Linked DNA regions of Homo sapiens: region 2 is linked to region 1. The links come from fine-mapping of genetic effects on gene expression. A gene starts in region 1. The other region holds a variant in brackets. All regions are shown on one strand. Distances are from middle to middle.

Region 1 (10,817 bases):
ATAACGGAACGTTGCACCTCATAGAACACAATAAAAGCAGCCGGGCGCAGTAGCTCACACCTGTAAACCCAGCACTTTGGGAGGCCAAGGCGGGTGGATCACGAGGTCAGGAGATTGAGACTACCCTGGCTAAGATGGTGAAACCCCGTCTCTACTAAAAAAAATACAAAAAATTAGCCAGAATGGTGGGGGTCCCCTGTAGTCCCAGCTACTCGGGAGGCTGAGGCAGGAGAATGGCGTGAACCTGGGAGGCGGAGCTTGCAGTGAGCCGAGATCGCGCCACTGCATTCCAGCCTGGGTGACAGAGCGAGACTCCATCTCAAAAAAAAAAATAAAATAAAAATAAAAAATAAAATAAATAAATAAATAAATAAAAGCATATCTCCTCCACCCGCCCTGATATTGAAGGCAGTATCATAGTGCAGAGGTCAAGCGCCCAGGTTTTGATGTCTGGTAGACCTGGGATCGAATTCTGACTCCAGCATTCTGATGAGGCCTGGGGTAGCTTCTAGCTCCTCTAGCTCTGGCGTTCCATATTGAATCTGCATCATGCCTGGCCCTGGCCCTGGTACCGAAATCGGTTGCTGTCTCTGTTATGCTGCTGCTGTTATCATGGTTCAAGAATTCTGCAGACAGGAAAAGGTATCTGAGAAAATCTATGTATTGCTTCACTATTTGAAATCTCCCCAGATGCAGCTCACTGGGATTTTCCAATGAGTTAATCAAGGTGGATCTTCAAGAAACGCTTCCTGCTCAGAAACCCATTTACTCTCTCTGGAGTTCACCAGCAGGGTGCTGGGAAGAGCTCACTGAAATGAAGTTGGACCAAGGTTGGGGAAGACGTTTCAGCTTCCATCCGGTTTCCTATCCAAGGTTCTTCTGGGATCAGCCTGACGAATACCAGGCAATTCCACTCCAGCAGACGCATGAGCAATCCCCAGTACCTGCTATTGCAGCAGGGGCTCATGTGTCATCACAGTATCTACTTACACTTATGTTGAGTTAAACCTCAGATGTGTTTGTATTTCTTGGTAAAGGGAAGAGTCAAAATGTGACCTATTAGGTCAAAGGAGAGAATGAGCTACATTGAAATAAGAGGAGAATCGCCCTGGATGGAAATCCTCCTCCTTAGACCTAAGACCTGGAAGAATGTGAAACGGCTCAGGTCTTGAGAGCTCACAGACTAGCTATCCTTCAACCAGTCTGTAACGTCCTGTCCAATGCAACCTATGTATCACTGACGTGACATCCGGTCCTGTGGGCCTGGAAGTCTTCAAACACTTCATGTGTGAGGGGCTACACTTTGTAGTGCTTAGCAAGGCAGAGCTGGGATCACGTGTGCACACTTCCTGCAATCCTCACTCCAATGGTACCTTACTGTGGAAGTCTCCCCGGGAAGTCTTTGGATGGGGGTAACAGGGCACTTTGCCACGTTTATCCCCACATGTATTCCCTGCTCACTTCATGCTCAGGACCACCAAAATCAGGAGGTGTCAGAGGCTTTGCAGAATCCATCAGCCTCAGTTGATTCCACAAGTATGGGGTCACTTGCAACGTGCCAGCCAAGCCTAAATCAGAACCCTTGGATTTCAACAATGAAAACACCTTAGAGCTCCTGGCTCGGGAGAGTAGCAAGCTCAAGTCTTCTGCGCATTTGACTCCCAGTGCCAATGTGCCCTCAACTCCACTTTTATCAATCACATGCCCAACCCAGAAAACCAGCAGGACTGCACGTCCAGCCTCACCCACCCTGAATGTGTGTCCCCTCCGCAATCTCTTCACTCCTTGGGGGACTTCCTATGTTAGAACTTCCCCAGTGTCCCTCACCCAGCCTGGGCCACCACCTCCTGGCCGGGTGTGATGACGTCTTTGCAAGCAAATCCCCACTGACTCAGCACGTGCTGGGTGCCTGCAGCCCTGGCAGCACAGGGCCCTTCTGAGTGGAGGGAACCCTGGAGAGGACTTGCCAAATGCACCCTACAGGTGGAGCATCCCTTATCCAAAATGCTTGGACCAGAAGAGTTTCCAATTCCCGATTTGTTTTTCAGACTGTGGAATACTTGCATTTATACTTACTGGTTGAGCAACTCAAATCCAGAAATTGGATACTTGAGATGCTCATGTAAGCATTTCCTTTGAGAGTCATACCAGCGCTCACAAAGTTTCAGAATTTAGAGCATTCTGGATTTCTGATCTTCAGATTTGGAATGATCAACCTGTACTATTTATGACACTATAAAGAAAATGACAGGACCTGGGCCGATCAGCTCCCCAATGTCCCTCTACTGTCTACATAGAAAGCTGTTTTCCTTTTTAAGGAACTATCTCAGACATGTGTTAAATACCCCCTACACACACCAACCAAAAAAAAAAAAAAGAAAAAAGAAAGAGAGAGAGAAAGAAAGCAGCTTTTCCTCGCAGGGTAGTTTTTGATGTGAGTCCCTGGGGCTCAGGCGCATTGGGAGGCTGAGACTCCAGTGGGGACCTGCTGACCTTCAGCTCAGGGGCCTCCACCTGCTCTGCTGTAAAACAGGGGGCTGAGTGAGGTGGCAGCTAACAGTCCCCCAGCTTGGACAGCCTGTGTGTAGATAATCCTGGCGCCACGCTGTACTGTTAGCACAGACCGTCCCCAGGGAAATATGACTTGCCCGGGTCACCGGTAGGGCCACGGCCGAACCCAGGCGCCAGCTGACTCTCCTGACAGCGTCCAGCCCACTTTCCACCACAGCCCAGCTCCCCGGCCACTCCCGGAATGCTCCTGACACGTTTAGGAATCATGACACCAGGATGAAACGCGAGCCTCTCCTCCAGTGCAGGGGACCACGTGTCTGATATCCCCATCCTAATTCCTTCCTGCAAACAACGTGTGGAGCCCATTCCTCATGTCACCAGGATGGGTTTTAATTTGCAAAAATGTTTGAAGTACAAAACATTGACTTCCACTTAATGAAGGAAATTGTTTGTACAGTTAAAAATGTCAAAGTCAATAAATACACCAAATTAAAGCTTTCTAGAGGGGAAAGGGACTCCCAGACACGCAGCGTTGGCCTGTGCCACAAGTGGCTAAGCCCTTGGCTCCCAAGACAAGTTTTAGCTTGGGACTTGGTTTATTAAATAACGCCTTAAATTATCTTTGTTCCACGCTTTCTTTGAGTCCTGTTTTACTTCTACTTAGTAAGAAAGGAATGTGAAATGGAGAATTAGAAAAGGCCAGGTGTTCCCAGTGATGGCAAACCCCTTCCTTCCGTTTGCCTCCGGTGCCTTCCACGTGCAACCACCCAGCCCCACTGTCTTTCTCCAGCAGGTTGCATTTCAAGAGCACGCCCTGAGAAGGCACAGCCTCTATCAGCGGAGTGGAGCTGAAGAAGTCTGAAGGGTCACAACACACCCAACAGCACAAAGAAGAAAACAGCCGTAAGAACGCTGTCATTTTTGGGCAAAAACTTGCAAGTCCTGACAAGGATTGTTCTCTTTCCCATACCGTGGATAATATAGGCTAGGTCTAAGCTGAATGACCCTCGACTCTTTTTTCCCTTAAGAAAATATCCAGTTTTATTATTTCACACCTTTATAAGTCAGCCCTCTCCTCGGGGGAGGCTTTCGTTTCTGAGAATCTCATGAAACTTGCAGACATCAGTCCACTGACTGGGGGGCCCCCTGGGGCCACGATGAGACCAGGGCTAAAACCCAAAGCACACGCCGCAGGGTGCTAAACGGCACTTAGCAAAGACCACGGCTGTGGGAAATAAAATGTTAGTTGAGCATAAAACCTCGTCAAAGAAATACAGATCCCAGAACTAATTGCTCTGTTTTCCACAGTAAAGGGTGCCTGCGACGGGGTGCACTGGCTCTCTCTTCTTGACCCTGAAGTAGAGGTACTTAGAAAATGTGAGTGCAGAAGTTACCGGTCCTCCCCTTAAAGCCACAAATTAGAAAAGGCAAGAAGAGAAAGACACTTACCCAGACAGAAAGGAAAATTGCAAGGAGGAGAGAGAATTCCTGACCACCGGCTCACCAAGCCACCCACACTCCAGCCGAGGAAGGCAGAGCTGACTCCTGCAAAGCAAGCGCCTGTGCCTCCCTCCCGTTTAAGGTCTGAGGAGCTACTATATATAGACGCCTGGGCCTGCCTCTCCCCACATCAATACCCACATCGTAAATCACCAGCCTGACCTCAGGAGGAAAAGCTTCTTGTTCAAACTGAGGGCGGGGGAAATCACGATTCAAAACTGGAACGTGTCCTTTCTGAGTCCCAAACTGCACTTTTCCCAGGAAACCGGGTGTGACACTTCAGCCCCCGACCCAGAAAGAGAGGGCAGGGCACTGACTTCCCACGCTCCCTCCCCGCAACTCTCCTCCATGAGTTCTAATCCTTACGTGTGAATTCTCAGACATATCTTCAATCCTTTCGAGCTACAGGTTCCCTGGCTCACAAATTGCAACTCCTGAATGAGTCTTTAATAATGACATGGATTTCAGTGAGCATTTGTGCCATTCGCAGGCCTGGACACCCGAGTTGAGGTCGGCTGTGGAGGGAGGGAGGTGCACAAGCCCCTGGGTTTGTGAGCGTGTGTGTGCATGTTCGTGTGTTTGTTCGTTTTTTTTTTTTTATTTCAAGAACGACTCAGGTCTTCACTCGATTGTATCTTAGGGCTATTTTAGCAAGAACTGCCTACCCAAAAGAGGAGCGGTGCCTAGTCGGCAAGTCGGGGCTTATTTATAGCCATTACCACAGACGTACACTGCGTCTACACCACACGGATAATTGCAGGGTGCCCGTCGTTTCGCACAGCGTGTGTCCAAATATAGATAACACACACCTGGCACGGTCCTGGGCTGCAGCCTGGCCAAGAGGCGGGGCCTCAAGGGGATGCCCCCATCTGAGGACCCGGAGAATCACACTCCAGCTGCACCTCACCACAGGGGCTGAGGACTTCGGCCAGCTGCTCAGCCCACGGGGGCTATGCTCCCCAGCTCTAAAACGCATGGAATAACAACTTTCCTGTAAGTTTGTTGTGACAAGTAGAGAAAATATGATAAGAGAATTGCCTTAAGAAACTCCACGTTCTCACACTGGGGTATCAGAGGCACAGCCAAGGACCAGCGAGCAGGTGGATGGAGGCGAAGATCAGATACGAGAAAGACGCGAGCACAGCCTCTTGCTGGGCCCCAGAGCGTTCTGGATGCTGGATCAGGAGGCGAGTGTTTCTGTCTTCTTCCCCTTCGTATTCTGATGGCCTAGCATTTAATTTAATTAGTGTTTGTTGAGTGATTTCTTAGTCTATTCAGGCTGCTTTAGCAAAACACCATAGACCGTGTAGCTTATAAAACACAGGAGCTTCTTTCCCACAGTTCTGGGGACTGGAAGTCCAAGATCCAGGTACCAGCAGACACTGCCTGGGGAGAGCCTTCTGGTTCTGGGACGGCGCGGTCCCTGAGTCCTCACCAAGTCAAGGGGCCAGGCCGCTCTTGGGGCCTCTGTATGAGGATACTGATCCCACTCGGGAGGTTCCACCTCCATGACCTTGTCACTTCCCTAAGGCCCCACCTCCTCACACCATCGTTTTGGGGGTTAGGGTTTTAACCCACATATTTTGGGGGGGTTGCAAACAGCAAGACCAGAGCAAGCAATGTTTACTTCCGGTTTATCAGCATCTCCTTCTCTAGCGAATCCATTTCTCAGGGACCTGGGGGACTTCCCTTCAGCCCTTCTGCCCCCCTGCCTCTGAGTGTGGCCGACACTGGAGGGGCAGTGATGGTGCCTCGTCCCCTCAGGTGGCATCTCAGTCCTCTGAGTCCCAGTCCTGGCATCTCAGTCGCCTGGGTCCCAGTCCTAGCATCTCAGGAGGGGACAATCTCATCCCGGGGAGGGGCCTCTCCTGAGAGAAGGAAGGGCCAGCACACTCCTCCTCCTTTTCTGACATTTCACGGTGGCTGTGCCCTCCTTCTGTGATATAGAAATCCAGTGCTGCGTCTAAGAAAGCCTGGATCTTTCAGCCACACCACCCAGAGAGCAGAGTGTGACCCGGGACACAGATAGGCTCCTGATGGGGACAGAGCTTCGCCTTCTGCTGGGGACAGGAGACCCCTCCCCACCCTCCTCGTAGACCCCCATCTCCCTGAGCCATGCCTGCCCCTGCCCACCCGGGATGTAGCTTCCAAAACTCCCTGGGTGAGGTGCACCTGCAGGAAGCCTGGAGCCAAGAAGGGACAAAAGACGGAGGGAGGCGGTGGGACCAGGCATGGGCCCCGCATTCTCCACCAGACACACCAGCTCTGGGGCAGACAGGCTCCTTCTTGCCGGAGTTCCTTGGGCTGACTTTCTATCATCGGCCATCAAGAGAATCCTGACTAAGACAAAGGAAGAGTCCAGCAATCTCATTTCCACAGCTCAAATTGGCAGCCTGTGAATGGAAAACAGTTGGCCTCACTGAGGATTTCCCACAACATAGAAAAGAAGATCGAAATGCAAAGAGTGACATTCTAAAACCACGTGCCTTCAATCCTGTGGAACCCCAGGCCAGACCATTCATGGGTGAAGTTATGTTCTATACAGCAACAATCCCCAACTGTTTTGGCAACAAGGACCGGTTTCGTGGAAGACAATTTTTCCAAGAACGGTGGAGAGGGGGATAGTTTTGGGATGAAACTGCTCCACCTCGGATCATCAGGCATAAGATTCTCATAAGGAGCGTCCAGCCTAGATCCCTCGCGTGTGCAGGTCACAGTAGGGTTTGTATTCCTGTGAGAATCTAAGGCCGCGGCTCTGAGAGGAGCTGGAGCTCCGGCGAGAATACTCAGTGGCCGCCATTCACCGCGCCATGCGGCCCAGCTCCTCACCGGCCACGGACCCCGAGGCTGGGGTTCAGGACCCCTGTTATATTGCACAGAGCCAAAACTGACATTCGATTCAGGAAAATCAGTTTGGATATTTGAAAGAAATAAAATTATTCTTAAGATATTTTGTTCACTTCCATGCATTCCGTCTCAGAAAACAAATTTTCTGTTTTTTAGAAATTATTTTAGAAATTATCCATGTATTTTAGAAATTATCCATCCCATGTATTTTAGAAATTATCCATCCAACAGGCCAAATATTCAGTTTTATGATTCAAAGGATGACAGCTCACCAGAAAGAGGCTTCGCAGTTGCAGCCACAGCACAGGGAGGGGCAGGGGGTCACCCTCCGTGCTCTCCCAAACCAGGGGGTGATGAGGCCAACAACAAAGGCGTCTGGTCCCCACAGAGCACGTGTGCACAGGCCGCAGAAGGGAGACTGGAAAATCTGGAGGCAGAAAACTCCCTTGAGGGCATCAGCCCCCATCAGCACTGCCTCTCATTCCCAAATCCTGAAAACCTGAATCTCAGAAAACAGCCCCACTTTAAAGAAAAGAGTTTTTTTCTTTATTTTTATTGACTGATGACTGATTGATTGAGATGGCGTCTGGCTCTGTCGCCCAGGCTGGAGTGCAGTGGTAACCTCCGACTCTTGGGTTCAAGTGAGCCTCCCACCTCAGCCTCCCAAGTAGCTGGTATTACAAGTGTGTGCCACCAGGCCCGGATATATATATATATATATATATATATATATATATATATATATATATATATATATATTTTTGGTATTTTTAGTAGAGACAAGGTTTCACCATATTGGTGAACAGGCTGGTCTCGAACTCCTGTCCTCAAGTGACCCACCCATCTCGGTCTCCCAAAGTGCTGGGATTACAAGCGTGAGCCACCATACCCAACCTTGTTCCTTTTTTCTGCCTTTAGAATGTCTTTGTTCCTATTTATGGTTGTGCAGTTCTGTATTTAGAATTTAAACCTCAAGAAAATCACATCCACTTAGATGAATTAACTGTAATGTTTAAATGTGAACCTTCTGAAAATGTTGATTGTGAGAGTAACCTTGTTTAGAGAAATACAATTGTCACCTTCTTAATTTCCAAGAAGTTCAATAGATGTCTCTTTGAGGCCATGCTTAATCCACTAATTGATGAAATAGGTCGCTGACATTCAGAGGAAGCGCCTTCCTTCTAACATTTCATTAAGTCAGTTAAACACGTGTCCACAGAAAGCAGCAGCTCAGTAATGAGGAACCCTTTAGCGACATGAATCGCACAAATTCCCAATGTTTCCAGCATTTCTGAATCATTTTCCAGGAAAGTAGGAAAATAAATGCTTAGGTTTCCTTTGCTTTTTTTTTCTTTTCTGCAAAATTTTGACTTTATTTTATAGTCCTTAGTAAGTTTACCTGCTATCTCTTTTGAGGCCAATATTATTATAACTACACATCAATTTCTGAGTAAAGATTTCCCCAACTACACCATCTTACTCTTCCCCAGACACTCTTGCCACAGCAGCCACCAAAGTGTGGGCTTCTTCTCTCCAAACTTAGCACATTCTCTGTGCTTAATAAAGGAGTTCTGAACTAACTGCCCAATGAATGGATTCAAGAGACATGAAGAACTTACTATTGTTAAGTATAATAGTTAATAGTGGCTCAGAACTAAACAGAAATATACAGAATTGACAAAGCTAGGCTATATTTAGTAATTCTTTACCTCAGCTCAAAAATATATATGGTAGATAGATAGATAGATAGATAGAAAGATAGATAGATATTGATATAGATAGATATAGATATAGACACTTTAAAATATATATACTTTTAAATACATTTAAATTAATATTTATCAAGCATTTACTATGTCTCAGAGTACCAGCAAGTCTTAATACTATAACTCTATGTAGTGGGTAATATATAAGACATGAGATGTCTGAAGTAGACTTTCACTTTTATGTGTGATAAAGTTGCTTCTAGTAGGACAACATTCTTACCCAGAACAAGTAACAATCCAGATAAAATACAGAGTGTGAGAGATGGCAAAAGAGTAATGAAAGAAAGAGAGAAAAACAGATAGGTGAATGGACATATAAGCTGATGGGCAGATGAATAGACAGACAGATGATGATGATGATAGGTTAGATAGATTGATTGATAAAGAGATTGATGGTATATGAGTTACATGATAGATAATAGATAGATGATAGAGTGATAGAAAGATAGATGATAGGTAAATAGATAATATATGATAAAGTGATAGAGTGATGATAGAGATGAAAGATAGACATAGATCAGTGATGGAAATAGATCAATAGGTGATAGATAGATAGACAGGATACACAGACAGACAGATGATACACAAGAGAGCTGTGAGAGCAGCCAGTGGTTCGAGGCCCAGTCCTAGTGAGAATTGTGCTTCCTGAAGTGGGCACTCTCTCTGCACATCACTTTCTATCTCTGGGCTCTTGCCGATTTGTGGCTGGGTTGAAGGTAAGGAAGAGGAAAGAGTGCCGCTGTTGAGAAGCAGGGGGAAACAGCAGAGCTTCCTGCAATACTGTGAAGCTGGAGAGATAAGAATTGGAGTCTGGGCCTGACAGTGCATCCAGGATTTGAAAGGCCAAGATCCTGAAGAGAGGGGAGGCTCAAAGATCAGAGCCCACATCTCAGCACCAGGTTTCACCTCAAAGCACTCCATGAGCAGAAGGCAAAAAGTAGTGAGAAAGCAAAGAAGAGCTGCTGGTGGGTTTCTGGTGCTCTTGAGTTGGGGTTTAGGACCCCCAAGAAAGGTGGGGCCATGTTAAACGAGGGAGACTCTCCATTTGCCAATGGTGTGTATTCTTTGGTGAGTTGTCTGTCCAGGCCTTTTGCCCATTTTTTTCATTGGGTTGTTTCTTTTCTCATTGTTGAGATTTAAGAGTTCTGCGGGCAGCCGTACTTTATTAGATGTATATTTGCAAGTATTTTCTTCCAGTCTGTGGCTTGCCTTCCCATTCTCCTGATCTTGTCTTTTGTAGAGCAGATATATTTAATTTTATTGATGTCTGGCTTATCAATTACTTATTTCATCAATTGTGCCTTTCGTGTTATATCTAAAAAGTCATTGCCATACAGAAAGTCATCCAGATGTTCTCCTAGAATGTGTTTCTGAAAACATTAAAACACAAATAGAAATTCTAGAACTGAAAAAAAATACAACGAATGAAGTTAAGAACTTGACAGTTTTCATAAAACTTCCTGTCTCTCCTTTCTCCCTAAGGCCAATATGACCCCCATGCTGTGGATCACATTCCCTCGCGTGGAATAATCCCAGCGCACACAGTGTCTGGAAAGGAAAACCTCAAAATTCATGGAATATCTGAAAAATACTCAAAAGGGCATGGACTCAGTAGTGGATCAAAACCAGCCCTGTGTTCAAGGCTGATCTCATGTCAACTAAAACATTTAAAAGCAAGCTTTGAAATAATCAAACTGTTGGAAAAAAAAAAAAACCCTTCACTGTATTACAGAGTAAAGCTCAAAAATATTTCTGGAATACAAAAATATCCAGCAACCAAGAAGTTAAACTTCACAATATCTGACATTCAATTAAACATACCAGAAAAATGCAACATATAATGAGAAAATTAATAGTAACATGCCCATAAATTTGGTAAACAAAGACATTAAAACAGTTATAACTATGTCCCATGCCCTCAAAAAGACATAGAATAGATTGAACATACTAAATAAAGACACAGAAGATATTAAAAAGATCCAAATCAAACTTTTTGAGATGAGAAATATAATGCCTGAGAATTTTTTAATGCACTGGTGGGATCGATAGCATGTTATTGCAGAAGAAAAGACTGAAGATATCCAAGATAACCCTTGAACTTAAAAATAGAAAATAAAAATGTTTTTATTTTTTATTCATTCAGTGTTTTTTCTCTTAATATTTTATTTTATCAACTAATGAAAATAAATAAAA
Region 2 (10,817 bases), 98 kb before region 1:
AGGGCAGAGAAAAGACTGTGCATGATGCTACAATGGTGGACCTGAGTCCTGATCACCCGACCAAACCCACAGAGCCAACAGCACCAGGAGTGTGCCCAGGGTAAACTCCAGCCCCCGGCAATGCTGACGCTTCAGTGTGGGTGCAGCAGTTGTAACAAGCGCCAGAAGCGAGCCCAGGGTAAACTCCAGCCTGCGAGGATGGTGACGTGTCAGTGTGGGTGCAGCGGTTGTAACAAGCACATCCCTCTGGTGGGAGGTGTTGGTAGCGGGGGAAGCTGTGGTGGGGGTAGGGGTTGGAGTGGAGATCTCTACCTTCCTTTTAACTTTGCTGTGAACCTAAAACTGCTCAAAAAGGAGGTCTATTAAAAATAGTATATATGGCTTCAAGAAATTCACAACCATTTGAATTATTTCCCATGAACCACGATTGCTAAACAAAAATGACTGTTTAAACTGGAAAATAAACAAAATCTGTTTAACTAAATCAAGGTCAAACTGAGACTGTCTGCGCCTACCCTTGCCAAGCACGCTTTGGAAAACGCGGCTGCCACCACGCAATAAGAACAAACTCCGCTCAAGTTCATCTGCACGACAGAAAAGGGAGAAATAACAAAAATAAAATTCTTGCTGATACTCACTTTACTGCCATGGAAACCAGCTCAGCCAGCTTTATGTTACTGGGGACATATTTAATTCTCAGGATTTGTATTATTACCTTAGAAAAATATAACAAATTCTCGTAAAATTTGGATTGCCCTTAATGACACAGAAAGGTAAAACATTCTTAATTATCAAAGCTTTTTCTGTTATAAAGCAACAATAAAACTAAAATATTGAAATGGGATTTTTATGCCAGAAGAATTTCAGCCTCTTTCCAAACAAAGGAGGAAAAAGTTCAAAGAGAGGGTATGTTCCTCCTAAACACGTTTTTTAACTTCACCAAGAGGCCTTGTGTAGGCAGCCAAGTTTTTATTTTTCCTCCATGGCTACTGCAGTGATCATTCTGAATGAGTGCCTTCTTTCTTTTGAAATCCCTTCCTAATTCATTAGCACACTAAAAAAGAACAGAGCCATCTTTGCATTTCATTTTCCTCTACAGAGACTTTTAGATCCGTGGTATAATCACTAGGTGGCCTTTCTAAGCCTTGCACAAAACGCACACTTCTTAGGACTGGTGCCGTCTTGGGTGCCGCTGGGGGCCAGCAGCCCAGCCCCGTGGGTCGGAGGGGCTTTGGGGGTGTGATTCACCATGCCCTGCTCTCTGGAGGGTGAGTGCACTATCTGCACCCCACCAGCCGTGAAAGTGCATGATAACCCATAATTAAACAAGCCAGGGGGTGAGCAGGGGCAGGTAGGTGTGATTTGGTACAGGAAAACCACAACAAGGTGATTTTTAAACTTTTATTTGCCTAAAGCAAGAGAAAACAAGCTTAACCAGGTAACACATGCTTCAAAGCCTCGACAGCCAGGATTTCAGAGATGCTAGATCTCGCGGCCCCCCAAAGAGAAGCACGGTGGCTTCACACAGACCGCCACATGCTGCACACGTCCAGGTGCCACACCCATGTGCCCACACCCGTGAAAATTCTAGTGTGTTGTCTGCCAACCCACTCTCTGTCAGGCATCTGCCGTCTACCCTCGTGTAAATACACGTTGTTCAGTCTTGTGGAAAACATTAGCTTTCTCCCTTAGACGGGTATAAAATATTCATCACCAAATGCAAAAATCAAAAGCACAATGTGTGATCAACTATCAGCCCACACAGGACACCACTCGGATGCCAGCTGCTCATTTGGAACAAGCACACAGCATTCCTGTCTCTGCCAAGCATATTTTCCCATCTCCAGGCTAGGAAAACGCCTTCACTGGCCTGCCGCTGAGGCAGACGCGGGGATGAGCTTGGGCTTGGCTTGCTGGGGCGGGGCCATGTCCGGGATCTTCTCCCCGTGTTTGTACACGCTCACTGTCACGTCGATCTTCTCCCCGCCATACTTATTCTTGATGTTGATGCTGTACTTGCCCGAGTCCTCGGAGGTCACGCCTTTGATGGTCATGCTGACGTACTTGGCCTGCTCCACCTTCACCGAGAAGTGCTCGCTGAGCTGGATGTCCTGGTCGTTCTTGAACCAAATCACTTCGGGGTCAGGGTTTCCAAACACCGTGCAGGTCAGATTCAAGGTCTTTGGACGGAAGAGGTTGGTGGAGAAGGAAGAGTTAGAAAAAGGAAAGTCATGTCACCCCCTCGGACGGTGGGCTCCAGGTCACACTCAGTTACATTTATTGGTCCTTCAATCGTTTGTTTAGAAACAAGCCTTTATGTACATGAGCGCCGCTCTGGACAGAGCAGGCAGAGGACAGCAGGGAACAGGTTCACCACTTCACAGGCGAGCTCGTAAAAAAATCAGTGAGCATGTGTCCTATTTATTCTTAGCTTTTATCCATAGCCTAAGTCAATTAAAGAATTTGAAAGTAATTTAATTAAGCTCTATGTTTTATAGTAGATATATCCAGTCTGCTCCCAAATTTCCTTTCTATTTAGAGTTATGGATCCCTCTTACCAGTTCCTCTGGCAAACCCATTGAATATATCGTTTTATAACTGGTAAATTGGAGGCAAAAAAATGCATTCTTGAAGCTTAGTTAAAACATGCTTTCAGCCTAGGATAAAGTAAAACGATTGCTAATTTCTCAATTACATCCTTAAGATGAGATCTCAAGAGCTCTCTAGGCTTCCATTAGCTACTAAAGAAGACGTCTATAAATTTTTGTCTTTTGGGCTAATAAAATTTTCTCAAGTATCTCTGTCCCTGTGACATTGAGTTAGACCCACTGAAGCAACCAGACAGCTATCAATTAGATATCAATAATTCTCCCGACAGGCAACAAATTAAACTCCAATAAGTGGCTTCCACGATGTGTTCCACAATGACCTTGAGAATAGGAGCAGAGATTTTTTTTTCCTTCGTGTTGTAAAAGCTGTGCTGTTTCACACTGGAAGCAGGGGGCTTGCACCTTCACACACGCAGGTAGGTCAGGGCGAGTGTGGCTGCCTCATCCTGCAGTTGCTCCTCTGGGTGAATGGCCACAGGGGCATAGAAACACCCAAAGCCACAGCACTTGCCTTGAGGTGCCTGAGTGGCACAACGTGTTCCTCTGAACACAGGTTTGTGGATTCGGAATGTTATGTGATTCCTTCCTTTGAGAATACAGGGGCTATTCCAAGCCGTCTAGGAGGGGCAGAAAAGTGGGGGGGACTCTGGGTTCCCTGCAGGCTGAGTGAGGACACAGAAGCCCCTCACTGGGTTCCCTCTGCTCCGCCCCAAGAGAAGGGGTTGCGTCCATCGCACCGTGCTGACACCCCCACCCCGGCCGAGTTTAGAATCCTCACCTTCCCTTCCATGATGGTCACCACGTCAGGCAAGCCGCCGATCAACCTGCCACGATCTGCAACGGGAAAGCACCTTGGTTAGGAAAACATCTGCGGGACGTTCCCACGGAGCAGGAGCCATGTAAGCAGCAGTGGGTACCAAGGTGAATGTGGTGAGGAGTTTATGCTCAGGAGAGAGCGAGCATCAAAGAAAAAGGTTTATATGTTTACAGTTGAGGGATAAACCAAAGCCAAGGGAAGGTAGATGAGGAGATAACAGACTCTGTGAAGGGGTTGGGGGAGAAACACTCCAGAGGAAATGTGAGATGGGAACTGGGCTTGAAGGGTGAAGAATTCACCGAGGACGGAAGGCCTGGAGAGCCGCGTGTGTCCCTGAGTTGGGCAGAAAGTGACGGGGTCCTGGCCAGGCGCAGTGGCTCACGCCTGTAATCCCAACACTTTGGGAGGCCAAGGCGGGCAGATCATCTGAGGTCAGGAGTTAGAGACCAGCCTGGCCAACATGATGAAACCCTGTCTCTACTAAAAATACAAAAATTAGCCGGGCATGATGGCGGGTGCCTGTAATCCCAGCTACTCGGGAAGTTGAGGCAGGAGAATCGCTTGAACCCAGGAGGCAGAGGTTGCAATGGGCCGAGATCATGCCATTGCACTCCAGCCTGGGTGACAGAGCAAGACTCTGTCAAAAAAAAAAAAAGAATAAAGGGAGGGAGGGGAGGAAGGGAGGAAGGGAGGGAGGGAGGGAGGGAGGGAAGGGGAGGGGAGGGAGGAAGGGAGGGAAAGAAAGTGAAGTGGCCCTGGGTGTCTGGGCTGCAGGTTCTGCAAGGGAGGAGGGAGGGAGGGTGTCCAAGGGGTGACGGGGCTAAGGCCGAAAGCAGTGCAAGGATCAGTGGTGCAGGACATGGGGCTCCAGGACAGGGTGTGGTGTTGGTGGCGTTGTTACATCAGGGTGGGGGATTGCTGGTTATTATTTAATACACAAAGTTGGTCCTCCAAAATATGGACACTTTTGCCCCACCCCAAATAATTCACCATCCTGGTTACAATCCAACAGGTACTTACTCTTCTCTGCAAAAGCAGCAGCTCTAAAAGTTAAAGGGGACAGAAAGGAGAGAATGAAAAGAGAGTATGAGAAAATGCTTCCAACAAAATGCACAGCTGAGAGGCTCACTAGCGATGAAGCAAAAGAAGAAGGAGATACGTTTGCATTCTCTTAGAAGAACATGTTCGGGTCACAGGACCCCAGGATGGATATCACTGATTTTTCCTGATGGTTCCCACTGCCCATTTTGAGGTGGAAAATGCCCTATTATCCAGATGCTAAAACCCACAGAAAAGTTTAGCATTCCAGCTCACAGGTTGAAGAGATTTTTTTTTTTTTCACAAATTCACTAGATTGCACTGGAGACTTGAGATATTTTCGGAATTTGTCAGTTTCTGATCTATCTTGCTCATCCCTGCACCCAGTCAACAAATGTTCATTAAATAAGCTAGCATGGGCCAAGGACTGCGGTCAGCTTCGGATGTGCGAAGACTCGATGGTGCATTTGAAAACCCCGAATTGTCCTTAAAAAGTTGCTGTGTGTGATGTGCTGCCCTGATGATGACTGGCAGAGCAGCAGCACCGCCATCTTGGACTAGCATCGCCATTTTAAGTCTTCCTTGATTAGAAACCGCCTAAGTCCAGCCCAAAAACATCAGCTTAAGGGCTAATGTCAGCATGGCCATAAACCACAAATGACACCTCCGACCAGAAACATACCAACCCTGGCATAACCTGCCCTCCAATCAAAAACATTCCAACCCTGAGATAAGCTCCCCTCCAACCAGAGGTATTCCAACCTCACAATAAAACTCTCCTCCACACAGAAACCTTCCTAGCCTGAGCCAGAACCCTTAAATACCCTTAGTCTGTAAAAGAAAGCGCTCCTGACCGAAATCGGCCAAAAGCCCCACTCAGGTTTATTCTCCAAAATAAACCTGTCTTTGACTGTTAATCTGCTTTGCGTGTTTCTTTTCTCTTTCTTCAACTCTCACAATAATGATTTCCGAAATTCATCCGGGGTTCCGATGACTCTGGACAGTCCGTTTATAAATGCATTTCTGGTTTAGGAGAATGCCCACCCCTCCATATACTGCATTGCTTAAATTCCCACTTCTGTCCCAGGAATGGCTCTTTCTTTAGGTCACCCAGGCTTCCATACAGATTCCCACATGCAGCCAAAACGACTGGGACTCAACTGCCCACAGGATATCATAGTAACTAAATACACAAATCTTACTTGAATTGCTGGAATTCTGCAAATGCTTCATCAAAAGCTGTGAGGAAATAGTTCATACGTTACTAACCATTTCAGTGTTCAGATTTTATTTATTCACTCAAATATTATACCAGTGAATCTGGTTCATGAAAACTGATATATAAAAAAAGAATAAATTTATTTTTTCATTTTCTCTAAATGAAAATTGTAAATTCATATTGTCTCTTGTATTCATATTGTATTCCCTCCCTTCAGCATCTAAATGGATTTCTAAATAG[G/A]AAATTATTAAATGCTAAAGAAGAATTCTCTTACCTTGTCCGGACAGGTCAAGGGAGCGTTGATGGTTGTCTTTGCCATCGAAAATCTCAAAAGTGTATTTTCCTTTATCCTTCTCAGTCGGCTCACATATCTGCAGCCAAGCCATCTCTTCACTCCCCCCGATTCTCATATGCTCACTGGATGAGATCTTAGCATCTCTTGAAAAGAGCAACAGGAACGTATCTGAGTTAGGGTCTCCATGTCACACGCACAATGTCTACAGGGCAATGTCCCGTTGCTGTGACAGCCTTCTCTAAGCTGCTGATGCCAATGTCACAATAGATTATTCTGGCTGTTACGAATGTATTGACCACATCAGTAACTCAGATCTGAAAACTTTCTAAAATTAAATGATACTTAATTTTTAAAGGTATATTATTATGTAATATATACTTGTCACGACATAATGGACTTAACATTACTCTATATAGTATGGTAGTTCCTCAAAAAATTAAAGCTAGAACTACTACATGATCCAGCAATTACTTGTGTAGATCCGAAGAATTGGACACGGGGTCTTGGAGAGATATTGTCACACCTACATCCTTCGTAGTATCGTTCACGACCGCCCCGGTGGGGAGGCAGCCCAAGCGTCCATTGGTGATGAATGGATCAGTAGAATGTGGTCCATAAATACATGAGGGAAATCCCAACACCTCCTGCAATGTGCATGAACCCTGAGGACATTTTGCTGAGTAAAATAAGCCTGTCACAAAGAGACAAATATGTACTCCTATGAAGGGCTTAGGGTAGTCAGATTCACAGAGACAGGAAGTAGAACTGTGGGTACCAGGGGCTGGGGGAGGGGAATGGGGACTGAGGGTTTAATGGGAACAGAGTTTCGGGTGGGAGGATGAAAAGGTCCTGGGTGGTGGTGGTGCCTGCACGATGATGTGAATGTACTTAACACCACTGAACAGTACCCTTAAAGGTGGTTAAAATGCTCACTTTTACATTATGTGTATTATGCTACAATATTTTAAAGTTTAGATAAAAACAAGGTGCTCATACATTCCCGCCTTCTAAGGTTCCACATCTGCAACATATAAGGCCAAACTGTTTACTGCAGACAAAAGTGTATAAGTTATTTCCTAACATTACTTCAGTTTAGAGGGAGCCTGAGAGATCTGTGGAAGTCATAGTCACAGGTGCATGAAAACAGGACGGACTCCAGGGCCACCCAAGAGCTGGAATGTGGACCTGTTTCTCTCGGGCACCAGCTCCAGAACAGCCGCAGCTTGGGGAAGCAGGCTGGGTCAGTTGCACAGAGAGCCAGCTGTGGTGCTTGTGGCATCTTTCCTTACCCTTGCCGGCAACCAAGAATGCCTATGTTCCATCGGGAAAGGGAATTCTCCAGCCCTCCTCACCATCATAGCCTTTTTCTCTGTTATTCTTTCCTTCAACAAATATATGTTAAGCCCATAATAAATGCACAGCTCAGGCCGGGTGTGGTGGCTCACACCTGTAACCCCAGCACTTTGGGAAGCGAAGGCAAGAGGAACACATGAGCCCAGGAGTTGGAGACCAGCCTGGAAAACAAAGCAAGACCCTGTCTCAACAAAAATAAAAAAATTAGCCGGGTGTGGTGGCAAGCACCTGTAGTCTCAGCTACTCAGGAGGCTGAAGCAGGAGGACTGCCTGAGCCCGAGGAGGTCAAGGCTGCAGTGAGCTGTGATCACACCACCGCACTCCGGCCTGGCCAACAGAGCGAGACACTGTCTCAAAAAGTATATATGTAAAAATAAATGCTTGGCTCTGCGTCCCGGTCTCTGGTGGTGGTGCTGGCAGTGTGTGTCGGGTCTCTGGTGGTGGTGCTGGCAGTGTGTGTCGGGTCTCTGGTGGTGGTGCTGGCAGTGTGTGTCGGGTCTCTGGTGGTGGTGCTGGCAGTGTGTGTCGGGTCTCTGGTGGTGGTGCTGGCAGTGTGTGTCGGAACTGAGTCTGTCCGGATAGAAAGTGGGAGTTCTGTGAAGGCACAGTGGGATCCTGGCGCACACTAAGCCAGAGAGGCCGAAATGGCTGTTCCCAGGGATGGTTTTGTGGGATTGGCTTCACCCTGAGACTTAGCCTCTGGGATCCCGGACAGAGAAGGGAGGATCTAACACTGCCCATGTGCGGTTGTTTTAGAATCCAAGAAGACATGCTCAACATCTACTGAAGCGACTTTGGAACATAACTGACACACATTTGTCTACAATAATCAGGTTGGCCTCACCTGTTGCCGATGTGGGAGCGAGTTCGTGCCGCCTTAGAAGGCAGGGCAGTGTGAGCACTTTGGTTCTATCTAAACTTTTAAAAACTGTGTTAGAATGCACATAATGTAAAAGTGACCCCTTTAGCCCTTCACAATATGTTAATTAGCTCCCTTTTCCCATAATCTGCCCCTCCCCGGAAAGAGGCGGGAGAATCGGACCAGGCAATCCTTCAGGAATCTCTCAGTCCCGCATCTGGAATTCTATACGTTGCTGACCTGGGAGCCTCACGAAGGCTGACCCCGCAGCAGAGCCCCAGGCTCCGCCCAGCTGCTCTCAGTCCACAGTCAGCATGGGCTGCCTGGGGAGCAGGAGAGGGAAGCAGAAGCGATGAGGCCATGACCCCAGGCCCCAGCACTCAGCAGCCAGAGCCGGCCGGGCCGAGAGTGCCATGTTTGCAAGCTGCAGGCTGGCGCTTACATTAAAGGCAACACGGACTTGCCAGAGTCTCCATCCGTGGTGTGTCTGAGGGCAGGTGAGCATCAGTGGCCACACCAGCCGTCCTGTGAGCTCACAGCAGGTCGCTATTACTAAAGGGATTGATGGGCCATTGCAGCACTCAGACCTACTCATCCCTGTGTATAAAAGGAAAATTAGACTTTACATGGTGATTCTCAGCTCTGCAGAAAAGAAAAACCTTGCACAGAACATATACCAGGCAGTGGATTAGCCACTCAATCCCAAACCGTGGCGTGTGAGGAGCAGCAAGAAGCCCGTCTGTGCAGAGACCTGAAGGCAAAGAGACACTGACACACTGTAGGGACATCACAGCTTGATTAAGAAAGACTTCTTTATCCCCCTGGATGCACTTACAACTGGACACTTTACAGACCAATCAGCAAATCAGAAATTGCAGATCAGTGGGGAACTGGGCCCACTGTAATCGTTTATTGACTAAATGTACCCCATCCAAGGAAACAGGGTTCCACAAGCATGTGGAACTCTTCTGTTGAGAGTCAGAAAAACTTGTTTTGCCAACACTGATAGGCCTTAGTCATCTTGTCACCCTCTCTTGTTGGAACTGATGAGGGTCAAAGTTCAAACAAATGCACACACACACACACACAACCAGGCACAGCCAACTTGGCTATGTGTGCTTCCTGCACACACACAGACCCGTGGGACAGGATTCCAGCCTGAACCTCCACACATCAGTAAGGCCCTCAGTCCTGCCTGGCCCCACCCTGCTTCCCTGCCCTGCAAAGCCTGGATACTGCTTGGGGATTTGTGATGAGCTCCCCGCTTGCGAAGAAGGGGACGATTTTTGTCATGCCTGGTGTCTTGCATCCTGCACGAAATGCTCTGTTCGTGCTGTCGCTGGTCAGTCTCACCAAGAGGACGCAACAATCGCTGCCACCCTGTGTGAGCTCATCACCCTGTGTGAGCTCATCCTCCCACACATCACGTGGGTGTTAGGGAGAAGACAATGTTTTCTTGATCACCATTAACTCAAATGTGTCTTCTTCAAAGAGCTAAATTATGTGCCAAAACTATTGCATCCTAGATGTATAGACGAAGATGTTCAAACCTCTGCTCTGTGTGTGTATATGTGTGTGTGTGAGAAAGAGAGAGAGACTAGAAATTCTTCCGTGGGGTAAAATTGCAAACAGCCCCAAAATCTCACTGTTTAGACTTAGAGCCATGAAGAAAAGCTAGTGGAGTTTCCACCGTATCAGCCACAGCTTTGTCCAACAGGTGAAATTCACTGGGCCACGAAAGTTGCGCTGCAAATGCTTCATGAAGTGGCAGCGTTTTAGCCTTTGCGGCGTTTATGTTCTGCTGGACTACGTTCCATTCCAGTGGTGATCCATTCTACTCACACAATTAGCAACTTGCTTACAGAAAAAGAAACATAATTTTATTTTGATATAGGTGACAAGGGAAAAAGGTACACCTTCACGCGATCATTCATAAAATAGCTGTAAATGTGTCCCACCGGCCTCCTGACTTTGGTGTAATTGGACACACCGGCTGGGCAGCAGTGGAGATAAGGGCCCCACTGCACACAATTGCTTCACTGGCCTCATGCTGACGGCCCTAGGCCTTTGGAGTGACTTATCATTCAAGTTTCACTTTTAAAAAGTGACCCTCTACTTCAGCGAGAGATTCTTTACAACAGCCACACAATCTGGGGGAAGAACACTTGAACCCAAATCTCAGCCAGTGACGAAGGGTAAAAACCACTGTAATGAAGGAATGGTGTCCACTGGACACCAAATCACACACTGGCCCACTTGGTGCACTTCTGGCACCCCACATGCTTCTGGCCCCACCTCCGTCACAGCTGCGGCCTCCGCTGCCACCCTGGGATCAGGGTAAACACATGCATGCATGCAAGATGCCCTGAGCCAGGACCCCACAGCCTGCAGCTGGGACGCTACCCTTCCCTGGGCTGCAGCTGCACAAAGGTAGCCATGAGCCGGGGATCAGCAGCCACCTTCAACCCCAATCCCAGCCTCGAGCTGCCCATGTTGGCGTTCTGACCCCAGGTTCTCTTGCATCACACACACTTCTCTTGGACTGGGTTCTAATTCTGTTCCCTCGATACGACTCAGACAAAGCCACTCACAGAACATGGACAGCCATTAGCAGAGCTTCCAGCAGA

Evidence for each region.
Region 2: its variant is fine-mapped to the expression of MYOM2 in whole blood (TOPMed, PIP 0.97).

The regions. Positions count from the first base shown.
Region 1 is chr8:2,038,312-2,049,128 of GRCh38, reverse strand. MYOM2 (myomesin 2) reads right to left here and starts at 4,083. Exons shown (of 37, transcript NM_003970.4): 1 at 3,961-4,083.
Region 2 is chr8:2,136,027-2,146,843 of GRCh38, reverse strand. It overlaps MYOM2 (myomesin 2), which reads right to left. Exons shown (of 37, transcript NM_003970.4): 33 at 5,958-6,121; 34 at 5,667-5,703; 35 at 4,447-4,469; 36 at 3,388-3,443; 37 at 1,388-2,180. The coding sequence ends at 1,863. Among named protein-coding and RNA genes, the nearest start is that of MIR7160, 65 kb to the right of the region's middle. RefSeq lists enhancers at 8,547-9,047, 10,035-10,542. The variant G/A (reference allele first, on the strand shown) is at 5,924.